Linked DNA regions of Homo sapiens: region 2 is linked to region 1. The links come from fine-mapping of genetic effects on gene expression. A gene starts in region 1. The other region holds a variant in brackets. All regions are shown on one strand. Distances are from middle to middle. Region 1 holds the start of GRIN2B (glutamate ionotropic receptor NMDA type subunit 2B). Region 2 overlaps GRIN2B (glutamate ionotropic receptor NMDA type subunit 2B).

Evidence for each region. PIP is the estimated chance that this variant, and not a neighbour inherited with it, causes the effect. A credible set is the group of variants that fine-mapping cannot tell apart.
Region 2: its variant is the best candidate, but not a certain one, in a credible set for the expression of GRIN2B in tibial nerve (GTEx, PIP 0.56).

Annotation. Positions count from the first base shown.
Region 1 is chr12:13,976,687-13,987,406 of GRCh38, forward strand. GRIN2B (glutamate ionotropic receptor NMDA type subunit 2B) reads right to left here and starts at 4,916. Exons shown (of 14, transcript NM_000834.5): 1 at 4,656-4,916; 2 at 3,242-3,670. RefSeq lists an enhancer at 8,669-9,868.
Region 2 is chr12:13,723,325-13,731,324 of GRCh38, forward strand. The region is part of intron 4 of GRIN2B (glutamate ionotropic receptor NMDA type subunit 2B); the gene reads right to left. Among named protein-coding and RNA genes, the nearest start is that of GRIN2B, 250 kb to the right of the region's middle. The variant C/T (reference allele first, on the strand shown) is at 3,079.

The DNA of each region.
Region 1 (10,720 bases):
TATAGCCCATAAATATTAACAATTTTTTTACTTTAACCTGTTAGTAGTATATATGTCACCTTTGTTTTCAGATTCTTAAACAAGAATATAGAAAAAAAAAATCCTGCCCCCAGGGTTTATTGTATTCATGGAGGAACTGGAAGAATGTTTTACAAGGTAATATTGTGGCCAAGGGATGCATCAGCTCAGTCCTGTTTCTCCCAAACACCCCTCATTCCACCAGCCAATTTCAGTCCATTTGCCCACCTCCCAGGTGCCCCCTGCCTCTCCCCACACAAGACTGGGTGAATGTACATGAAGGTCAGGGAAGACAGTCAAGATTCCAAAGCTATCTTTCTGGAGGTAAACCAAGAACACAAAATCAAGGTTCCTGCTGTTCATCCCTTCTCCAGAGGAAGTCGCTCTTCTCAATCAGCCTTAAAGAAAAGCACTTGGTGTGCAAAGTATTGAATTGAGGATTTTTTCTCTTTCCCCTCCTTTCCTGTCATTTCACCTTCTTATTGATTCTCTCTGCCTGCGTCCATCCCTGGCAAAAATTGCATATATACATTAGCAAAGCATGGATCTTCAGACAGACAGGCTTCCTAGGGATGGAACCAACGGGAGAGGAAAAATTAGACAATCCAGTGGTACTCCCGGCTCCTCTCCTCACATGTAACACCTAACTCTAAACTGCCACATCACTCTGTGTTCACAGATCCGCCATGCTCTGCCACACCTGAAACAGACATAGAAGATAACCATGTTGTTCTGCTTCTCTTGAAATCACCCACCTAATGTCCTTAACTGTGTCCTGGGAAGTCTTTATTTCCCATTATTATTACTTTTCTTAATTGCACATCATGGAGGTTCCTCGATTGAAATTAAATTTGCTCTTCCTCCCACCAGCCGCCACCTTTCTTTCCCATGTCACCCACATTGTAAGGGGGCTGGCAGAAGGAGAAAAGACAAAATAGAACCCAGTCAGCTCTGTGCTGTGAGGGGGAAAAAGGGGGCGAGAACAAAGGCCCTGAGATGGCTCAGAGCACCACTGAGTCACAGCCTCACAGAGACTGCCTGCGAGGATGGGGAACACCTGCTTCCTCATCAGGGTCTCCAAAATGGCTTTGCATGGTGAAAAGGCACAGACCACCTGTGGCGATTCCTCCTTGAATCTTAACAAGCCTCTTCCAGTTGGATTACCTCTCCTTTCCCTTTATAGCTTCCCCACCCACTTTTTCCTCTCTTCCTCAACTCCCTCCCCTTTCAACCTCGCCTAGTCTTAGGGACAACTAATGATAGCCTGGAACCTGGCTTCATCCATTGGCATTCAAGATAAATGAGGTAGCTGAGATCCTGTCAAACAGCATCCTTGTCAAACCCATCACCAACAAACGAACATTCCAAAGGACCTACTGGGTGTAGAGTACTGGTGTTGTGGCACTGGGGATGCAAAAGGGGCCCTGTGCCCCATCAATGCCCTCCTCTCCTTGTCCATCTGTATGTATGAAAGCATTGCACATGGAGCTGCCTTTCTCACCCATACCTCTTTTCTATTTTGAAGTCAAATTAAGAGTTCATCCTCCTACTTGGAGTGGAAGCAGATGGAGAATGAGTTCAGGTGTCTCTAAGGTGAGCACACACCAGATAACCTCAGTCATTTGTAGACGTGGTGAGAACATGGTTCAAAGTGGGATCCCACCCTCTCACTCTGATTACACCATGGTTACAAAGTAGCATTTCAGCAGTAAAACTCAAAAGAATGAAACCTAGAGAAGGGGGATAGTGAATTTGGATTACATCTATCCTTTCTGGACAATGAAGAACTATCATCTACTGTCATGTTGAGCGACAAAGATCTTTCACCTCTTCCCCACATCCCTTTGGTATTTTGGATTATCAAAGAATTGTTGTTTTAAAATGCCAGAAAAAAAAATTGTGTGTGTGTTGGGGTGGTGGTAATACTTTTAGGAAAAATAATGATGCTAATGATTCTGCTACATGTTTTTGGAGATCTTTATCCCAACCTGATCCCTGCATTTAGACGCCTTCAGAGTTCAGGGACATATGGTCAGTGGAGCAAGGAAAGGAGCAGCCCACTCACCATCATGGCCCTCCAACCCATGAATGATCTGATTCTCTCAAGAGTTGTCTTGGATTGCATGAGTGACTAGCTGAAGAGTCATTAGCTAAGTCTTTTCCATTTCTCCTGCTATTTCTCTTCTCAAGTACATTAAAATACTGCCTAATCACATTTCACATATTGTAAAAATTGATGAAAGGGAAAATGTTAAAGTATTAATTCCATTTTTGAGGGTACAAGACTAATACATGCAAACAGCACATCTCTTTGTTTAACACAAAGACTCACGTGTCGAATTCTGCACCCCTTCCACATGCACAGCATTTTAGAACTCTGCAAGATAGCCATTTTGCAAGAGTGTAGAAGTAACAGTTTGCTTGGAGGATGTGTGGGTATAAATAGATATGTAGACAGAAGGAGAAATTTACAGCTCAAAAATAATAGCACAGGAAAAAATACAAATTAAAAGCAGAATATTGACAGAATTCCTCCTTTCCGAGCTTAAGATTTAAGTCGTTTAACCTGCAGCATCCTTCAATTCCAGGTGTTCTGAGACCAGCCCGATCCCCACCTAGACCTACCCCTCTGCAATAGGCCTCCCGGGATCTCTGGGCCCCTTGTCAACCCTTTAGACAGCAAGTGGATTTCAGGGCAACAATCACAGTAATCTCAATCATTATTTTTATCTGTTTTAAAGGGCATAGAAAGGATGCCTAGAAAGGTAAAGACAGGAGACAGGGAGAGAGGCATGAAGGTGACAAGGGGAATAAAGCCAACCTGAAAAAAAAAAAAAAAAAGGATTTCTAGATTCCCATAAAAATCGGAGCTTTAGTTCTGGGTGAATAAAATGCTATTTAACTGGAAAATCACACAGGTCTCCTGGCTGGCTATGTCTATAGATATAGATACATTCCCCTGATGCCATCCAACATCTTTTGTGCCTGCATACATCCACCCCCACTGCCCCCCAAAAGCCCAAAACCTGTTAGATGAGAGAAGAAAAAGAAAAAACATGGGAGATTTCCTTCTTTGTAATAAGCCTTTTTTCCCAAAACAGCATTATTTTCATATCTTGTGACCTTTTCTTCCAAAAAGATCCACTTGAGGGACTCGAAGAGATAGATAAAATGAGGAATCCCTACCCCAGGTGAGGAAAAAATAAAATAGAATTTGCCCTACCTTGGTTTGTAGAAGCCAAACCTCTAGACGGACAGATTAAGGGAGTGAGCATGTTGGGAATGTCCAGTCCCTTCTTCTCGCTTGCATATCCACATAAGAAAGACGAAGGATAAATGAACGGAAGATAATTTAAAATCCAATTTAGCGTAAATTTTGTTTTAATCTTGTGTCTTGAAGAGATGCAAATTCAAAAAAAAAAAGATTTAATTCAAAGGTAATTCAGGGTATGGAGAGCAGCTCACAATGCAGAATCCAGAGTAATTATTCCGTGTGCATGTGAGGTTAGTGGCTGGAATAGATTTTTAACGCTTCTTCTGGCAATTACGGTTTTTGGTTTTTGGAGCGTTAGTGGAGGAGGCTCTGTGTGGAGAAGCTGGGGGCCGGCTCCGTCCCTCGGTGGAGCATGGTCATTCCCAAAGCGTCCCCTTCCTAAGGGGGAAAAAGAGGCGGTCAGGGCTTGATTCGCGTGTCCCCCGGAGGGTGAGAAAAATGCATTCCGAAAAAGATATCAATTCGTTTTAAGGAAAGGGGGGAGGAAACCCCGCATTTCCCACAGAGTGCACACGAGAGGAATTGAAAACAGCTGGTACCGGTCTATAAATAATTCAGAAAAGGTCTGGCTATACCATTCCTGGGACAGGCACGGATGAGAGGTGGGAAAGCCAACCTGAATGGAAGAGGAGAGAGGGAGGGAGCGAGCGAAGGAGGGAAGTGGGAAGGAAGGAGGAAGGGGGGGAGAAGCGGCACCATACAGCAACACACACTCACACACACGCAGAAACACAATTCCCACTTAACTCGCCAGCGAGTGCGGCCCCCAGCCCCATCTGCATTGCTGCTGACTTGTCTCGCTCGCTCTCCCCATCGCCTCCAGCAGCAGCGCCGCCTCCCACCCCGGGCTTGTGCTGAATGGGTTCTGATTGTGCACGGGGTGCACACTGGGCATTTCTTGGAAGGGGCACACTGACGCGCGCACACACGCCCCCGACGCGCACGCGCCCCGCGCGCACTCACACTCACCCCCGCGCACACTCACCCCCGCGCACACTCACGCTGCCGCCGCGCTGAGGTGCAGCGCACGGGGCTTCACCTGCAACGTGTCGATTGGACGGATGGGCTCGGCGCGTGGGTCCGGCCCGGGGCGCCGCTGCCCTGCCCCTCTGCTAGGTGAAGGGATGAAACCCCCCAAAAGACCAGAGACAGCCCTACCCAGTCACAGCACCCCCTCCCCCACAAAAAAAAAAAACCTTTAAAAAAGCCACGTCCAAATTAGCAAGTGCCGGGTTCTGCTGGATTTCAGAGCTTTACCTCATGCCAGATTCGTTCACGATTTCACGGCTTCGACCCTTTATCTGCCTGACACCCCCAAACCCCTACATTCAAAGGAGAGACTCCAAAGCCCATCTTTACGTACCGGCTCCGAGCGCCTCCGCGGTTGCAGTCTGCGGAGAGGGGTGGCCGGTGGCTGGGAATGGAGGGTTTTCCTTTCCTGCAAAGCAGGATTAATGATCCGTCTCGGGGGTTTTGAAGTTCATGACTCTTCTTTGCAAGGCAAAAGGATATGCATTCGGACGCCAGCACTACTGGATGGTGGTGATCAAGAATCACCCTTGACGAGCACTCTCGATAGAGCGAAGCCCCGAGATTTCCTAGAGGTGAAGAAGCCGGAGGAAGTGGTTTTTGAAAGGGGGTGGGGGGAACCTTCCTTTCTCAAAAAGAGGTGGGGGGTGGAGAGGCAGGAGCCCAGATTCCAGTTGGTGAGGATCGGAGCCGGGGGAAGGGAAGCGGGCGGGGGCAGGCTGTGCAAGTCAACCGCGCGGCAGCCGGAGAGGGAGAGCAGGAGGGGAGGAGGGGAGCGTCAGAAAAATGGGTATTAATCACCGGGGACGGGGGGAGGCGCGGGGAACGCAGGTTGCCTGGTCTGGATTTGGGTCTCACACTCAAAAACGTGCCGCGCACACACACACAGACACACACACACCCCCTACCTCGCACACCCTGACTCCGGGGGGAGGAGAAACCCACGAAGCTGGGGAAGATACTGCTTCTGCTCCCAGGGGCGGGTGTGAGCGCGCGTGTCCTCTTTCTCCACACCCCCCACCCCACCCCACCCCCAAGCCCCTGCACCCCCTCACTCCTCTTGCTAAGACTCTGGCGGAGGCAGCTTCCCACGTCATGTGCTGGGGAAGTGGGGTGGTAAGGTGGATGGAAGGGGGACGGAAGGGGGAAGAAGCTTAGCCCGAGTCCGTGGCGCCTCCTCCCGGCCGCAGCGGGGAACAGCACCGACGGAGAGCGGCTGAGGGGCGAGGGGAGCTAGACAGTGCCCCCCGTGGGCGGCCCGCGGGCTGCGGAAAGCATCTCCAAGGCGGAGCTGTAGTTCGAAATTGAAGACCCTTGCTGTATTTTCCATAAATCAGCCTGTGCTTCCTACGAGCATTCTGTGTGTCGGACGCAGTCTGGGACCGGGTTCTTTCTTGCCTTCAAGGAGCTTAAGATCTATCTGAGCACACGAGGCTGACGCCTAACACAATAGAAAACAAAGCAAAGCAGGTGTCATTCGTGGCTAAATTGTATAGTATGGACCATACGCGTGCTTTTCTGGCTGCTAGTGAAGGCGGGAGGAGTTTGACATTTTTTATTAAAGTGGATCCTGTTATTTAAATGCCTTGAGAAGAGAAGATGGTGAGGCCCGTGAATAATCCCTAAAGGAAACTGGATTTCCTGGCATTTACAAACCCACCCTCTTTGAAAAGGCAAACATCCATTCATTTCTCTTCCTATTGAACTCTTTTATATTTTAATAGCCCTTATCACCACCTGTAGTATTGTTTACTTTTAACATTAATATTATTGTATATGCATCATTTTCATTCTCATCCATTGTCTTTTCAAATATCTAGAATACTACAGTGGTGGAACATTTTCATATTGGTTATATCATGGGCTTCTCACCAGCATTCCTGAGAAGCGGCCATACAAACGCACAGGAGAGAAGGCTGTGTGAGTGGATATACCTAGTGGCTTGGAACTTTAGTCTGTAGAAGCCATCAGATATGTTTTTGCTGTCCTGTAGACCAGACTACTCATACTTCTGAGCTACAGTAATTCTTCTGTTTCCTGGTTTTTCTCAGGCTTAATTTTTGAATCTAACATATTTAACACACACGAACACATAAGCATTGTGTGAAAACACAAATAGAGTGTGTTCACATGCAAATTATTCCTTCTCAGTAATGGTTTTCTATTTTTCTAAGAGTTAGAACTGATCTTTCACTACTTTGGGGAAGTGTCGAAGCACCCCAGAGTTGCTGTGCCCTCTTGATACACAACAGCCAACCCAAGCCCCTCTAATAATTTGTCTCCAGGGTTTTCAAGTTCACCTGCCTATGGGCAGGTTTGCAGTTGTTAGAACGCCGATTCCAAGAGGAGTATAGAATGCAGAAAGCAAGAACCTAATAGAGATTTCCTGAAACACTCTTCCCTGAATTTTCCAGGAAAATTACCGTTACCTGGTCCATTAGCTTCAGAATAACATCCAAGCTCACTCAAGGATCTTCATGGGTTGACCTTGAATCTACTTTTTAAATTTTTATATTTTTTATTTCTGGCTCATAGCCCACGTTCCCCTTCCTATCCTCAGTCCCTTCACCAAAATTATACTATTCTTCCCTATTTTCTTTCCTTTTCCTCCCTACCTGAACCCTGTTGCAATTCCATTCCACCCTGTTCACTTTTCCAAGTGTACAGGGAAGAATGAACGCTCATACTTCCTCCACCTAATTGAGTCCACACTCCTCTTCAGTTTCCAGCTCAAGTCCCACCTCCTCTGGGGATATTTTTCAGTCAACCAAGCCTGAATTGATTTCTGTAAAAATTGCAAGAATTTTGAAATGAGAGATGACACCTCACCACCATCCCCTCCACTCTCATTTTCTGTATTCAGCAATGTATGGAAGAGTTTGCTTGATCAGTTATCAAACTGACTGGGTGATAACTTATTGCATTCATTAACCAGGTACTGGCCCACTATAGGGAAAAATATTACCTCTGTAGCTATTCATGTTGAACCATGTGAGACTATTGATATTCAATCATACGAAATTGCCAATCATATGAAATAACCATTATTGACATATAATAAAAAGGCAATTTCATAAAGTTAAACTTAAAATTATATTCTGGTGTCAATTTCCTGTCTTCCAAACTAGTTGTTTAGCTCCCTAAGGGGACAGACCATAACCTAAGTCATCCATATATTCCCAGTACCTGGCTCAATTCCAGACATGCAGTAGAGGTTCAATAGATATTTTTTATGACTATTTGAAGCCACTTTATCAAGCAGTTTTTCTGGTTCTGAAATAGCTAATTCTAGGGACCACACAGATTGTGAAGTGGAAAGTAATATCCCTTGCCCATGGCATTCATTGCCCATTGACTACTCAATGGAACTAAGATTCGTCTCCTTTTTTTCTGGCTCCTTGTCACTCACTTGCTCTTCTCACTAATAACCTTTGCCTTCATGGACCATAAGCCTCTCAATAAAACTATTTCAGCCAGGTGTGGTGGCTCACACCCGTAATCCCAGCACTTTGGGAGGCCAAGGCGAGTGGATCACCTGAGGTTGGCAGTTCAAGACCAGCCTGACCAACATGGAGAAACCCCGTCTCTATTAAAAATACAAAATTAGCCAGGTGTGGTGGCACATGCCTGTAATCCCAGCTACTTGGGAGGCTGAGGCAAGAGAATCGCTTTAACCCAGGAGGCAGAGGCTGCGGTGAGCTGAGATCATGCCATTGCACTCCAGCACTCCAACAAAAGCAAAACTCCGTCTCAAAAATAAATAAATAAAATAAAACTATTTCAAGGATCGCCCAGATTCATGAAATTCGAAACACCATTTCTTAGTGTCATAAATATATATTTCCTAACTCCTAGTCCAGCAACACAGAAAACAATATTCTAATGAGACAAAATGTTGCATCATATTTCACAGCATTGCTTATTGAGGAGAAGCTCTTGCTTGAGGCTGCTAATGACACTTTTGGAGGTATTCTGCCAACTCAACCCAAAGAGAGGTTCCCAGAAGATGCAAACACTCTTTTTCATGGCCCAATCAGCAAACGCAAAGCCTATGCCTTGCCTGGCCAACAACAACAAAAAAAGTATGTTTATCTGGCAACATCTTTCAGATCAAACACGGTACCAAAGGCTGGAGCCTGAAGTTTATACAATTTGGAGTCCCTCTTTAAGAGAAAGAATAAAAAATTAATTGCAAAAGTGAATATCCACTTAGAAAATAAATCACAACAATTTAAAAATTCTTTAGTAGTTATAAACACCACAAAAATTAAAAATTTAAATAATAATCTCTAGTTAACTGCATATTTCTGTAATATTTGTTTTTGTATTTTTTTTACCACATTCTCTTTGAGTACCTCTTCACATTGTGGTTTAAACTATAATTTTCTATGAAGATACTAGAATCAAAAAAAATAATCTGGGATCCAGTTTATTCTTCAAAATAACTGAAAATTGTTTTTCATTATAGATAATTTAGAAAATTTTCCTATTTATTGGTATTAGTACAGTTTACACTTTTAAGGGTTGTTGTCAAATTTAGAAAGACATTTATCAAATTTCTTTGATATATAAGCTCTCAGGTTACAAGGATTTCAAGTTTTCTTGTTCAGTGACTAATCTTAAATATCTCTTGAATTGATAAAATTCATTAACTAGTTTGTAATTTATTATAAGTTTTATACTGTCTTCATCAATGACAGCATTTTGTCTCAAATGAGCCAAAAATATAAATATTTCCCCAATATGTTCATATGATTCACTTCTCTTCATTAATTTGATTGTCAAACATTCCCAGGGGTCTATTCATTACCGCTATTTAGAATTTCTGTTTTCATCTTAAATAATTAGTTTAGGTATGACTTGGGAAATGCAACATTATGTGGTCTTGGGAAATGCAACATTTGGGCAGGAAAACAAAAATGCCTGTCCTCACCTAGGTCCCTGGGCACAGGCATGGGGTTGGAACCCTCGCCAGGGACCACACCCTTCCCTTCCCAGCACTTCCCTGCCCCGCTTTGGAGGCTTGAGCAGCTTCCAAAGGGTAAACATTACACTTAGATTCTTTAAAGAAAATTCTTACTTGTCATATATGTTTAAAACACTCCATTTGAGAGACAAATCTGAAGGAGAAAAAAAATGTTACAAAATACCAAAGTGGTCAGAAACTTTGAGGTAAGGGAGAGGCAGCTTTTTCTTGAACTAGAATACCGGGACGACACATATCCTGTGATGACACATATCCTGTGACACCTTTGTGTCACACCTGGAAACCTTTTCTTCATTTGGAACAGTGAGCAATAACTTAACTCTATGGAGAACTGATTGCAAGGTGTAGAGATATATCTCACTAAGCCTAAATGAACGTGTTTCCAATTCAGCATTCCCTTAGCTTCATCCCAAAAATGGTCACCACCACTCCAATGACACCCAGTGTGAGGGGAAATCTGACAGGGAAAGTTGGAATGGAAAGAGCAATTTTAAATGATTGCAATTAAGGCCTGGCACGGGTGGATCACTTGAGGTCAGGAGTTTGAGACCAGCCTGGCCAACAGGGCAAAATATCATCTCTACTAAAAATACAAAAACTAGCCAAGCATGGTGGAGCACACCTGTAATTACAGCTAGTCGGGAGACTGAAGTAGCAGAATCGCTTGAACCCGACAGGCGGAGGTTGCAGTGAGCTGACATCCTGCCACTGCACTTCAGCCTGGGTGACAAAGAAGCAATTATAAAATAATAATAATAATAATAGATTACAATTAAAATATGCTACTTTTGCAAATTTCACCAAAACATTTGGGCACATTTTAGGACTTCTCCCAACACCTTAGAAAGGGCCCAAGTGAGAGTCTATGAATTCGAAGCTGTATTAGTTTCAAAGTCAGTCTGCCTCTCAGTTCATTACCTAATGTAAAACAGGCTTGCTGGTTTCTAGATAAAATATTTGAATGATTTTTATCTTTGAAAAGGTAATCATTAAAGGCTCAGTTGACAACACGCATATTAATGTTTTCTGCTTAATCCAATCCATCTTCTTTTGCTTGCAATTCCTGGAGTGTACAGGAAACACAGGCAGAGCATTCAATTTTAATAATTTGCACAAGCATACTAAGATCCTGCCTCTACCATCATTACTCTTTTAAAAGAATCTCTATTTTGTTCTTATCATAATAATATTAATTATTCAACTCAGACAGTCTTTTTCAAAGGAAGAGTTAAACAACCCTCATCCCCTTGTCTGAAGACCTGCTTATCCTCCAACAATGAAAAAATTATTCATTATGCAGGGCATTTTATTGAGCCTGTTGTATACACTGTAACAATACACTTTTAGACATTTACATTGTGTTCTCATGGAAACATTTCTTCAATACTCATCTAAATCTGCCTTTTTTTTTT
Region 2 (8,000 bases), 250 kb before region 1:
AGACACATTTCTTAAGGCTTCTTAGAGCATTTCTTGTAGGATGAATGACCACTTGCTGTCAGCAATGCTCAACCAGATAATGTACCCTTGTATCAATTTTCTCTCCTTCCCTGTCTCACTGTTCTAGTCCCTAAGCCCTGCTCCCTAGAATTACTTAAAAAAAAAAAAACACTTGCATATAAGCTAGTGCCTCATTCTCTGCCATCAAAGGAACTCAGGTAAGATAACTGGCATTAGGAGTGGCTTTAGAAATCAGTTTCTCAAGATGGGACTGTGGAATTCAGTGAAGACCCCACTGCTACAGGTGAGTGAAGTAGTATTAATTCCTAGTATGTTCATTCTTTAGCATCACAAATACTAACACTCTTACCTGTGGTGGATTGGGATAAGCTAGTGGTAGAGGGTAACGTATTGGGTTATGTGGTGGCTCTGGTATTTGAAAAATACATGAGCAGTTGGCTGGCTTTGTCAATACATTTTCAAGTCTTAAAAAAATAAACTGGAAGAATCAAATGAACTGACTATCAACTCAGGAAATCCTGCTGAAAATCAGATCGATCCAGAGGAAAAAAACTAATAGTGGCAATGCTACCAAAGAGACTAAATGCATAACCTTGGAATTCCTCCTTTGTGGAAATTCTAATAGGAAATTCCAATAGGAAAAGAATGGGACCTGGAGACCCACGTGGTACACTTAGGAAGACAGTAAGAGAGGATTTTCCTGAAACCTCTTAGAAGGCAAGAAAAGCTCCTCCCCTCTTGCCAAAGGAAATAAGTCTGCCTTTAAAAACACTGTAAAGAACACATCTGAAGCAGGTGCCTCTCATTCTGACTCCTGTCCTCAATATGTGACCCCATCTCTCTGTAGTCCCTACAGGCCAATAACTAGAGCCAGGTCATAGCACAACTACAGCTGGAAAATACAGTCCCTAGAAGGGATGAATATCTAGGAGGAAATAGTTTACATACTGAAGGAATTGCAATGGAAAGGCCCGGCCAATTACAGGTTTGCAGAAATCAGGAAGCACATGTAGGAGTGAACTTTGAGGAAGTTAGACTGGAGGTAGAATGGGATAGAGAATTTATTGGCACAGCAACACTTTCTTGTGAAATGATATTCAAACTCCTTGCAGAGATGCCTATAGGCATTCCTAATATACTCCTGGGTTGATGGCCTAGGGGATGAGGTGACAAATGATGGGAAGACTTTGGCAAAATATTGAAAAAGAGATCAGAAGATTAAGAAGGTGGGAATGTTAAAATGGAAGTATTAATTTTATGTGAGACTGAAAATTGATTACCTGACTCTGTCCTAAGATGCATTTCTGAAGGCTCTCCTAGGATGCCCTTGTGGGATCCAGCACCTGTCACTCACAGGGTTTCAGCTCAATATGGCTCCTATCATTGGCTTTACCCCCTTCCACATTCACTCTCCTACTCCCTAATTTCTGCTCCCTAAGATTGTTTCCCATATAAACTCCTTGCACAAAGGCTAAGACAGGCTGCTTCTAAGAAGTAGAAATTCTAGGCAAGCTAAATAATCCTGGGACTGCACAGGGCCCTACCACTACCTCCAAAAATTATTGCCAGATGCATTCTACTATGGTGTCTAGGACATAGCAGGTCCCCAGCAGATAATTTGCTCCTCCTTTTCTTCCCCCTTCATCTGAAACAGTAAATTCAGATGTCAGTGAAAGGCAAACAACTTCCTTGAGACAGAGCAATAATGCTTGTATAGCAATTGCAAACTCTTGTGCTCTGTGCCTACCAAAAGCCCCTCCTGAAACCACTCTTCTTTGGGCAAATCTCTGCTCTTTATTTCTCAGCACACCGTTGTCACTATCTAGCCTCAGGATAATAGTGTCCCCTGGAGGGATCAGTTCTTCCTCTGGGGAAATCAAAGAGCAGATCAGGAATTAGTCACCAGATTGTGTCATTTTGAATACAAGGAAGAAAAGAAGAATGAGAGGAAAGAAAGGGGAAGAGGAGGGGTGGAGGAGGATGTGCAGGTAAGAGGGAAGAGGAGGAGTCAGGCAGTAGGGTGGCAGGACTGTATTTGGTGAGTTCACACATTTTATTTTATTTCAGCATCACAATACATTTGCAAGGTGTTCTCCTAGTCATACAGCTGGGGAAGCTAAGGCATATGGTCCCTGTTTTAAACAACCGATTCTTCAGCTAAATTAGCAGCTAGGAGTTACAGGTTGGGCCACAGCATGAGCAAGACACAGGACTTGATCAAGAATGAGGGAAACCAAGCAGATCGGATACACAGACTCTTTACACTTCTGCCTTCTTATAGCTTGTATTTATTTGTTTATACCAATTTATGGAAAAGCATCACAAAACTATTATAGAATACAGACAGCTAGAATATTTTCATTTTCCCTCTGCTTAACAAGAAATGGAGCAATTTCCAGGGAAGAGGGCCCAGGGTTTTGTGAAGAGAAACCCCAACTTCACTGAACCCTAAGTTCTGATGCTGCCAGAATGAAGGAGCCCAGAAATCAGAGCAGGACACAGGGATGGGCAGAGAGGTGAGCGCATGGGGTTAACTGCAAAATGAACTTCACAATGACTCTCCTGGAGATTTCACCAGACTGGAGTTTCTTGCAGATCTTCACCTGCTCTGCTTTATTTCTGGAAGGTCCAGAGCATTACATCACTTCCCTCTGCTTCCCTACTGAGATTTCTACCCATGAATTTCTACCTACATCCATGAAATTGCTAATTTCTTATTCCACTGTATCCTTTCTTGAGTTTCCTGCTGAAATAGTCATACCTCTTAGCCATTTCAGCATTTTTCTTTAAACTAGCTACTTTGTAAATTGTATATTCTTTCTCCACTTCCAGAAATATCAAAGCTTCAAAGACTCATAATAGCCTAGAGGTGAAGGGGCCAATATTTTTTTTTAATTAAAAAAAAATTGTCGGGCACATTGGTTCATGCCTGTAATCCCAGCACTTTGGGAGGCCAAGGCGGGCAGATCACCTGAGGCCAGGAGTTTGAGACCAGCCTGGCCAACATGGTGAAACCTTGTCTCTACTAAAAATACAAAAATTAGCCAGGCATGGTGG[C/T]GGCCACCTGTAATCCCAGCTACTTGAGAGGCTGAAGCAGAAGAATCACTTGAACTCAGGAGGTGGAGGTTACAGTGAGCCAAGATCATGCCACTGCACTCCAGCCTGGACAAAAGAGCGAGACTCTGTCAAAAAAAAGAAAGAAATATATATATATATTTATATATTATAAATATATATATAAATATATAACATTTACTCAAGCCACATACTATTTCTATTAACTTTTTCTTCTTTTTTATAATTTCATGTATTTTTTTAAATTTACTTTTTTATTTCAATAGGTTTTTGGGGAACACATGGTATTTGGTTACATAAATAAGTTATTTAGTAGTGATTTCTGAGATTTTGGTGCACCCATCACCTGAGCAATGTACCCTGTACCCAATGTGTAGTCTTTTATCCCTCACCCGCCTCCGACCCTTTCCGCAAGTCCACAAAAGTCCATTGTGTCATTCTTATGCCTTTGCATCCTCATAGCTTAGCTCCCACTTATAAATAAGAACATACCGTTTGGTTTTCCACTCCTGAGTAAAACTATTAACTAATTAGTTATCGGAGCAATCCTTTCACAGAACAGTTATTATCTCCATTTTTTCAGATGAGGAAACTGAGGCTCAACAAGATTAAATAACTAGTAATTTAATCAAGTTGTGTAAGAAATGGAAAGAACTAGAGCAACCAGAAAGCGGCAGAGCTCAGGATTTGAATATAGGTAAGAGGCTCCAAATTCTTCACTCTTAACCCTAGGGATTGTCTAACCCATTCCCTTCATTTTATAAATAAGGAGAGTAAGACACAAAGAAACTAAGTGACATATGCCACGACAAGGTAGGGTGTGGACTGCCATGCAAGTCTTCTGATTTCCAGTTTAATGTTTTTGTTGCTATACAACACAGCCTTGGTTCCAGACAACAGTTCTCATGTCTAGTCTATGTTTTCTGGTGGTTTCCCATGAGTTCTTGAATTGATCTGAAGATTTACAATTTCACAAAGGATGTTCATTTTATCAAGGCTGTATAGAAAAAGCACTTGAGATTGTAACGATTTACACCTGGTCATTTGGGGCTTTAGCATTGGGTGATCCAAATGCTAGCTCTTCCCTCATTAGATGTGACACAGCTTGTTCTTTAACTCTCTGGGAAATCTAGTTGTTACAGCTGAGGGGACCTGCAAATTGTAAGAAATATATAAATCCCGTTATTACAACAATGATGATGATTAGTCCTGTTAAAAGCACAATGTTTTACCCATTATTTCTGCAGAGTTTGTGAAATGGTGACAGGGATAGAGACTCAGATGGTCATTGTTTCTCAAGGTGGGAGGACCTGATGCTGTGATCACTGCTGGGAAGAGGGAAGGCTGTGAGTAAAAGCTAGGAAATGCAAACCATGTTCCTACTTATGCAAACCATGTTCCTACTTATTAACAGCTCTGGATAATAGCTCTGTGGGGTAAAATGTAAATCTGTCAATAAAGGAGATACTGTGAGTCATGGAAACCTACCTCTGCATGCACCCCTTCTCCTGGGCATGGATAGCATGCATCATTGACCCTTTCACTGTAGCTCTTACTGTAGCATTGTGAGTAAAGCTTATGTAAAACTGATCACATGTGGTATTTTGGCTGTTTTCCCAGCCACCTCCATTGTTGGAGATTGTGGGCCCCTCAAGGGCAGAAACCCTGGTCTTTTATTTCTGTATTTACAAAGCCAGTAACATGGTTGGCACTCAGGAAATGGTGGTTGAATAATGAATGAATGCACGATTTTATGACCTCCTCAGATTGCAATCACTTTGCTTTCATTCAGCAGCCCACGACTCAGATTCATGCACTGAGTAGTCCTCCCAGGGTTGTGGTTGGGTAGGACTAACTTTGGGGTATGGGAACCAATAAACTTTTAGGGAGAAGAAAAAGAATATTGAAGGCTAGAAATTTTTTTCAACCAGTTTTAGAGAACCACTGTTTAGTAGTGCTTTAATATTTCATCATCCAGCCACCAAAGGATGCCCACAACTCCCTACACATCAGAATATTTTCCTTATATATGTTTTAAAAATAAGAAATTTGTTTTGTAGGTAATCTGATACCTAAGGAGATACACAGAGAGCTGTAGTTTGGGGCTTCAGAGACGATTTTTAAGACTGGAAGAGAGAAAGGATGGAGAAAAAGGCCAAAGAGGGGAGATGGCAATTCACACCCTCTTTGTGTGTGCTTCAATATCAAAGATTCCTTAATGGCAGGAACCAGGTGTAAACTTGATAGATCTCCCACAGCATCTATCACTGACTGTACACACAGCCAATGCTCAGTGAAAATTAGATGGATGGATGGAAGGATTGGTGGGTGGATGGATGCACAGAGGGAGTATAATTTGCTATTGCCAGCATTACCAACAGTCACCTGTAAGTTGTTTAACTCTAGTCAGAATGCCCAAATAACCTACCAGTTTGATAATCACTTTCTTACTCATTTATTTCCTCTGGACTCTTCTTCACACAGAACTAATATTCACTTATTTTCTGTTCTTTATTAAATTATTCAAAAGAAACCCTTACCTCCCTCAGCACCCATCAGTAAAACTCTCTCCATACACAAGTATCTTCTCACACAAATCACACAACATAATACAATGGTATTCTCACTTACGGTATTGTGTCTCCATCTGAGAAAGAGATGAAGTCAGAGACAGAGTTAAAGTCTAAGAGGGATGTTTTATTTTTCTGTTTTTTTCTTACTTAGCACTAGCTATCCTGTGCTTTAAACAAAGAAAACAAAATATGCTAACAATAACTTAACATTTATTCCCAGCATGGGAGTGGCGGGGAGGAGGTTAATGTAGATAAGTCCTTGTGTACCGCACTATCAATCATAACTCTTTATCACAAATAATGCACTGCCATTCCCACAGCTGCACCCAGCTGTTTGGGTCATCTTTAGTCATGTCCGAACTCATTCTCAGAGTCCTATCTTCCTTCTGTCTCTCCCGTTTTTATGTAGCTCTCTGTCTGTCTTAGCTTTTGTATGATGAAGATTTTCAAGGCCAGGTTAAGTCTTGGGCTGGGTGTAGCCTGTTCATGGAGAGACAGTCTTGGAGGCGGGTGGAAGGAAGAGTCATTAGGGAGAAAGCTTGGGGAAGATGGAGGCAGAGAATGGAGCCAAATGAATCACCAGAGGAAAGAGAATCACTGGAGAAGTGCAACAGAATATGTAGGAAAGACTGTCTCCCAGATATCTTGCTCATTCGAGAACTTCCAGAAAAGAAATAGCTGAAAGAGATGGAGAATGGGTTTGAGGAAAGTCATACTCTGTTCTGTGAAGGATTCATTTTGCTGCCGAAAGGAAATAACTACAGGAGAAGAGAGAGACAGAAAGAAACCAGGAGTAGGGTGGGCGAGACAAAGAGGAAGCCATATGGGGAGGGGGGTGGGAGGATAAGGGTGAGGAGGAGAGAACATGGCATGCAGTGGGAACACTGTTGGAAACATAAGAACCGCCCCCAGAAACAAAATGCCAGCATCTCTGGGCAAAAAATCTAAATTGTCAGCACATGTATCTTTGCTCTGAGAAATATACACCTATTTTTTTTTTTTTTTTTAATTTCAGGATGATTCCCCATTCCAACATCAGTAAAACACTTCAGACTGAGAGACTCAGATAATTTCCTTCCTCCTATCGTGAAGCATCCCCAGGCCACTTCCTCACTGTTCCTCATAAAGGTGCCATCCCCAGGCTGGGGTCCCTTGGCAGGGAAAATTCAGGAACAAGGAATTGCTCAGATTTCATATAGATTTATGTCTTATAAAACTATAATGGAAGAAATCCATTCGTCTTCAAAAAATGAGAAAAAGAAAATACAATTTTTAATGATTACACTTTCCAAATACAATGTTTTATTCAATTATCAATAATTAATGTCAATATGAGCAGGGATAGCCCAATAAAACAAGCAAAATTAGATACTAATAACCAAACAAGCTGACTGTGTTTTGGTACTCTTTGTTCCAGGCCCCCTGCTAAGCACTTTGTATACATTCTTATTTAACGAGCACAAATACAGTACAAAGCCTTTAGTGTTGCCTCCGTTTTTATAGATGAAGAAGCAAGCCCAGACAGGTTAGGAACCTGGCCATGGTCATTCAGCTAACAAGTATACGGGCCAGGATGTTGAGAGACCCCTGGCATCTAATCATGTGTCAAGGGCCCCAAATCTCATTGTAGGCGATAGTGAGTGTTAAGTTTCTTCCCCACCAAATTTTTCCTACACCTCGTAATAGGGGGAAAATGGTTTGAATCTTTCCCTTCCCTCAAATTTCTTCCTTATGCTGTTTATAAAATGATCAAACATTAGGCAACTGAGCAGAATAATTAAAAAACTAAATAATTAATCCCTGATTAATGGTAGTTAAGTGTACAAAAAAAGGGAAATAAAAGGTAAGGTTGGCCCACAAATGCCTGCCCTCTCTACCACATTTGACATGACTAAACCCCTTTCCTTTCTTAAAATGGTTATTTCTTTTGGCTTTAATAACACGTGCACCTATACAGCTGACCACCACAATCCTCCTTCCCTGTCTCCACCAGGCCTGTGTCCTTCACTGAACACTGTGGCTCCTCCTGCCCTGGAACTATAGCTGATGTTCAAGGCTCAGTCCATAGCTCACTTTTTTCTAGATACTCTTCTCCTGAGACAACTCAGCTTTTCTCAGCTGGGCCACTGACAGTTGTATCCACTCTATGCTGATAAATTTTAAATCTGTAATTCCACGTTCCAGACTGCATAGCTGTAGGCACTACAAGACATCCTCACTAATGTGTCCAGCCCTCAGTTCAGAATTTGATGCAGCTTCTGTGAAAAGCAAGTTCCCACTCCAACTTCTCAGTTTCCACCAATCTATCATCATCCCTTCAATCTTAAAATC